2 separate regions of the Homo sapiens genome follow, and region 2 is linked to region 1. Evidence: fine-mapped expression QTL. A gene starts in region 1. The other region holds a variant in brackets. All regions are shown on one strand. Distances are from middle to middle. Region 1 holds the start of JUND (JunD proto-oncogene, AP-1 transcription factor subunit). Region 2 has its middle 14 kb from the start of ARRDC2.

Region 1 (2,882 bases):
CACTTGGAGGCGGCGATGCGGTTGCGCAGCCGCTTGCGCTCCGCCTTGATGCGCTCCTGCGTGTCCATGTCGATGGGCGACAACGGCGGGCTCTCGCCGAAGCTCGGCACGTCGGGCACCGTCTGTGGCTCGTCCTTGAGCGCAGCCAGGCGCGGCGGCCCCAACGCGCCTGGGGGTGGCGGCGGCGGGAAGGGCACAGGTTCGGCAGCGAAGGCGACCGTCGCGGCGCCCCCCGCGCCCCCGGCGCCGCCCGCGTAGCTGCTCAGGTTCGCGTAGACAGGCGCTTCGGGCGCGGCCGCCGCCGGGGCCAGCTCGCCGGGGGGCGCGGAGCCCGTGGCCGTGCCCGAGGGCCCCCCGGCGGCGGCGGCGGCGGCGGCAGCGGCCGCGCCCGCGCCGAGCTGGTTCTGCTTGTGTAAATCCTCCAGGGCCTTGACGAAGCCCTCGGCGAACTCCTGCTCCTCGCTGGCCGCCACCTTGGGGTAGAGGAACTGTGAGCTCGTCGGCGTGGTGGTGACCAGCCCGTTGGACTGGATGATGAGGCGCTCGAGCTCGGGGGAGGCCAGCTTCAGCAGCCCCAGGTCGGGAGAGGCGAGCAGGCCGTCGGGGGGTGCCGCGCTGGGGGCGCCGTCGGCGCGCAGGGGGGTAGGAGGCGGCGCGGCCGCAGGCTTGAGCGCTGCCGCCACCTGCTCACTCAGGCTCAGCGTCAGCGCGTCCTTCTTCATCATGCTGCCGGCCGCGGCCGTCGGGGGCGCCCCGGGGAACAAGCGGCCCGGGGACGCGAAGCTGCCGCCGCTGCCACTGGCGCCGCCGCCCAGGCCGCTCAGCGCCTCATCGCCGTAGAAGGGTGTTTCCATCCTCCGCCTCCCCCGCCGCGCCGGCCCGGGGGGGAGTGGCCGCGGCCTCCCGGGGGGCCCGCGCCCCCCCGTCCGCTCGGCCCTGCGCCCGCCCCGGCCGCGGCCGCAGCGCCCGGCCCTCCACTGGCGGCGGCTCCTGCGCCGCGCCACTTGTGCGCCCTCTTATAGCCTCGGCTCGGCGCGATGAGCTCACCGCCCCCGTTCGCCATTGGGTGCGGGTGACGTCGCTCATTTGCATGGAGGGGCGGGGCCAAGCCGCCGACGCCCGCCCGGCCGCCGTTGCCCCGGCGACGCGCGGTAAACGCCACAACAGCGCGCTGCCTTGTGGGTTGACGTCATGGGGGCGGCCGCGCGCCCGGGCCGGGTCACCCCGCCCCGGGACCGCTGTGTACGACCGATCTCCCCGGCGCCGCCTCCGCCAAGGCACGTCCCGGGTGGCGTGATGGGCCCGGGCCACCAGGCGCCCGCCCGCCCCGAGGCCCCGCCCCGTGTCCGCGCGTGGGGCCCCGGCCGGGCGGGGGCGGGGGCGGGGGCGGTGCCGGCCTCCGGGGACTGGAGGGGGATGGGGTCCCGCATGGCTAAATAACTCCTTGGCGCCTCCTGCTCTGCTGTGCCGCCAGGGCCTCCCCTAGCGCGCCTTCTGGAGAGGCTTTGTGCGGATACGGGGCTGGAGGCCTGGTGGGGCTGTGTCCGGGGGCTCGCCGGGGGTGTGGGGAGGTCTGCGTTCCTCACCCTCCCTCCTTCCTTCCCTCCCTCCCTCCACCCCGCGTGTGATTGCTCAGGAAGAGACGGGAGGGGAGAGGAGGGTCGCCAGAAGTTGCTGAAAGCGCTTGGATCCTGATCATTTTCACTGAGTGCGTTCTAGAACCAGGAGTCCTACTTCCTGCCTTTACAGATGGGAAACTGGGCTCAGAGAGGTGGAGTGACCATCCCCCGAGAGTTAGCTAGGAGTCACAGCAGGGCCCGGGCTGTGACTAGGCCTGAGCTCTTGTCCACCCTTAGAACCCTAGAACCTGGGAGTCCAGGCCCCTGCGCAGCCCCTTCCTTCCGCCGCCCACGTTTTAACCCCAGGTCTGCCAGGGCTGTGATGTCCTGGGCGAGGGTGCCCAACTCCAGGGGCTGGGCTGATGAGGCAGGAATGCCGGGTATAATTATTACATGCTTGTTACCACTATCATGGCTGTTAGGGCTTAATGAGCCACTATTAAGACTGGCTGGGAAGGGGGTGTGAGGGAGGAGAGATGGACCCACCCCACCAATACTCACAAGGGATCCTTAGGACATCTGGATCTGACCTACAGCCTCTGCATGCACCCCTCCAGCTCCCCACCTCTGTCTGAATGGAGCCCACACCCTCCTTTCCCTGACCTCCTTCCCCTCACTCTCTCTGATCCTTGGCCTCCCAGTTGCAGGACTAATCGTACCTCTGGGCCTTTGCACGTGCTATGCTCTCTGCTTGGTACTCCCTTCCCCCAGTGCAAAGATGTGTCTTCAGGAAGTGCCCCACCCTCAGACTTTACTCCTTTATTGTAGCCTCTGAATCTGCCAGAATGATGGAGTGGACCATAGTCCCTGAAGGTCAGGGACATTGCCTATGCTGAGCCTGCTGACAGGGCCTCGCATAGAATGGATGCTCAGTATTAAAGGTGAATGCGGGGCTGGGTGTGGTGGCTCATGCCTGTAATCCCAGCACTTTGGGAGGCCGAGGCAGGCAGATCACTTGAGGTCAGCAGTTCAAGACCAGACTGGCCGAAATACAAAAATACAAAAAAAAAAAAAAATACGAAAATTAACCGGGTGTGGTGGTGTGCACCTGTAATCCCAGCTACTCAGGAGGCTGAGACATGAGAATCGCTTGAACCCGGGAGGCAGAGGTTGCAGTGAGCTGAGATTGTGCCACTGCACTCCAGCCTGGGAGACAGAGTGAGACTCCAGTCTCAAAAAAAAATAAAAAATAAAGGTGAATGCAACAAAAGGTTGCTTGTGTGGGTGGTCTCTAGCCTCAGTTTGTCTGCCTGGCCAGTGGGC
Region 2 (2,898 bases), 260 kb before region 1:
CCTGGCCCGGCCAGCTGGGGGACAAGGGGTGACAAGCAGTCAGGGCGCCCGCTGCTTGTTTTCCCACCCACGCTGGCAGGGAGCCCAGCCCAGCCGGGCCACTGTTCAGGAATCCTCCAGCCTCCCCGCTCCAGCCACCAGGCGCGGCCACCGCCAGCCTCTCCTCCCAGCACATTCTGTCCCAAGCAAAGAGCGCCAGAGATGGGGTGGGGGTGGGGGTGGGAGGGGGACGCATTCCTGCTGAGCTCCAGTTACAGGACAGCTTGTCCTGGTGGCCCCACCAGCACAACCTCCTGATGGCTCCCCATCCTGCTGTGGGGTTAGACCTTCCTGAATGAAGCCAAAGCCCCTCTGCCAGTTCGTGCCCACCTCAGGGCCTTTGCACCAGCCATACCTTCCACCTGGCACTCTGTCTCCCTAGATCTCCCCAAGACCTCCTCCGCCTGCACATCTGAGACCTCACATCACCTTCTCAGCAAGTCCCCTCTGTCCCTAGGCCCGGGCACCCCAAATTCCCCTCCTGCTGCCCCAGTGCATTTAATTTCCTGGTCCTCCCCATGTCCCTGGGGTTACATATTCACTTGTTTGTTGATGTGGTGTCTATTACACCAGGTCCCCACTGTGTCCCAGCACCCTGAACACACAGTAGGTGGCTTAGTGAAGGTTTTTACAATTGACATCTATTCCTCCCAAAGCTCAGCCCGCCCAGGCTCATCCATGTGGATCCACAGTTCTGACCACCCCACCTCTGCCTCACCCTGCCTCCGCCACCCCTGCACCCTAATGCAGCAGGATTTCCCAAGCCCCCCTGCCTTGGCCCAGGGAGTTATCTCCACCAGATCCACCTTTCTGAGCGAGGAGCTGGGTGCATTGAGGGGCAGGGGCGGCTGGAGTTCAGATGCACCTTTTGAGCGAGGGGCTGGGCCTCTCTGTCGCTGGGCTCCAGGCACAGGGCAGTCATGATGTACACACACACGTGCAAACACACACGCACACACATAAGCCTGTCAGCAACATAGAAACACCAGCCAGTGAACTCGGGCACAAGCAGCCGGGCACAGAGTGTTCACCAGGTGCTCACATGTGGAGTACCCCAACTCCTAGGAGGATGCGGTTATGGCCTGGATCCTACAGGTGGGGCCCAGACATGGGCTTTGAACCCACGCCAGGGTATGCACAAACCTATCCAAACACACGCGTGTCTGCCCTAGCTTCCCTCACCCGGGAGTCACCCCCCCACCCCCCACCTTGTTTTTGATGTTCAGGAAAGTCCCCAGAAAGCACTGGGCCCGGGCAAGGGGCCAGGAGGAAATGGTGACTCAGCCGGTGGCCATCAGTGCCTGCCACGCTGGGCTGGGTGGACTGCGCGGCCCGATCTGGGAGGATCCACAGAAAACAACAATAAAAGATGAGGGCGTGGGTGCGGGGTAAAAAGGACTCAGCCCAAGAATGATCAGAGAGG[G/C]GATGGATCCCCCTGTGCTCCAACACTTCAACCCTGCTGGGCCTGATTGACAAGTGGGGAAACTGAGACACAGGGAACAAGTGACTTCGCCAAGGCCCACCAGCCAAGATGGTACAGGCAAGGGGATCCCTAAGTCCTTAACACAGGGGTCTGGAGGAATGTCTACCTGCCCTGCCCTTTTTTTTTTTTTTTTTTTTGGAGACAGGGTCTCACTCTGTCCGTCAGGCTGGAATGCAGTGGCATGATCTCAGCTGACTGCAATCTCCGCCTCCTGCCTCAGCCTCCCAAGTAGCTGGGATTACCGGCGCCTGTCCCTATGCCCAGGTAATTTTTGTATTTTTAGTAGAGATGGGGTTTCACCATGTTGGCCAGGCTGGTCTCAAACTCCTGACCTCAGGTGATCTGCCCACCTCGGCCTGCCAAAGTGCTGGGATTACAGGCGTGAGCCACAGTGCCCGGCTCCCTGCCCCACTTTCTGAGACCCAGATCCACTTCCTGGTTTCCTGTGTGGTCATGTGACCACACTTGGCCAATTGGAGCCTTTTGTTATCACAGGCACAGGGATTGGGTCAGGGCTGGGCACGTGATCCTGCCTGAGCCAATCATGCTACGAGTTTGGAGACTCCCTGGAAGAAGGCCTAGAAGTAAGGAAAACCATCTTGGACGCATGATGATGGCAGTGGATCAGAGTCCCAAGGACACTGGTGAAGATCAGAGCAGGACTCACACAACCTCAGATCCCTGTGGAGTCAGGGTGGAACCAGAGGGAAGGCTGAAGGCTGGAGGGTCCTGAGAGGCCTTGCAGAAAGAGAGGACATTGGAGCTGGGGCTTTGATGGATGAAGAGGAACTAGGGAAAGGCATTTCAAGCAGAGGGAACAGCCTGTGCAACCACAGCAGGCAGGTGGGAGCTAGGCGTGTCCTCAGCCACCCCAGTGGCCCCATGGGGCTGGAGCATAGAGAGGCATCTGCAAATGTGTTTATTTGTTTATTGAGACGGAGTTTTGCTCTTGTTGCCCAGGCTGGAGTGCAGTGGCGCAATCTTGGCTCACTGCAACCTCCGCCTCCCGGGTTCAAGCGATTCTCCTGTCTCAGTCTCCTGAGTAGCTGGGATTACAGGCGCACGCCACCACGCCCACCTAATTTTTTGTATTTTTAGTAGAGACGGGGTTTCACCATGTTGGCCAAGCTGATCTTGAACTCCTGACCTCAGGTGATCCACCCGCCTTGGCCTCCCAAAGTGCTGGGATTACAGGCGTGAGCCACTGCGCGTGACTATTTATTTATTTTTTTAGATGGAGTCTCACTCTATTGCCCAGGCTAGAGTGCAGTGGCACGATCTTGGCTCACTGCATCCTCCGCCTCCCAGGTTCAAGTGATTCTTCTGCCTCAGCCTCCTGAGTAGCTGGGATTAAAGGTGCCTGCCACCACGCCCGG

Evidence for each region.
Region 2: its variant is fine-mapped to the expression of JUND in whole blood (TOPMed, PIP above 0.99).

Annotation. Positions count from the first base shown.
Region 1 is chr19:18,280,631-18,283,512 of GRCh38, forward strand. It overlaps JUND (JunD proto-oncogene, AP-1 transcription factor subunit), which reads right to left and starts at 992. Exons shown (of 1, transcript NM_005354.6): 1 at 1-992. The coding sequence starts at 854. It overlaps MIR3188 (microRNA 3188), which reads left to right and starts at 1,447; the gene lies at 1,447-1,531. LOC124904652 (a long non-coding RNA gene) reads left to right here and starts at 1,462. Exons shown (of 2, transcript XR_007067154.1): 1 at 1,462-2,500. RefSeq lists an enhancer at 126-977 and a silencer at 471-1,470.
Region 2 is chr19:18,020,303-18,023,200 of GRCh38, forward strand. No RefSeq gene overlaps it. Among named protein-coding and RNA genes, the nearest start is that of ARRDC2, 14 kb to the left of the region's middle. RefSeq lists enhancers at 1,362-1,411, 1,886-2,435. The variant G/C (reference allele first, on the strand shown) is at 1,463.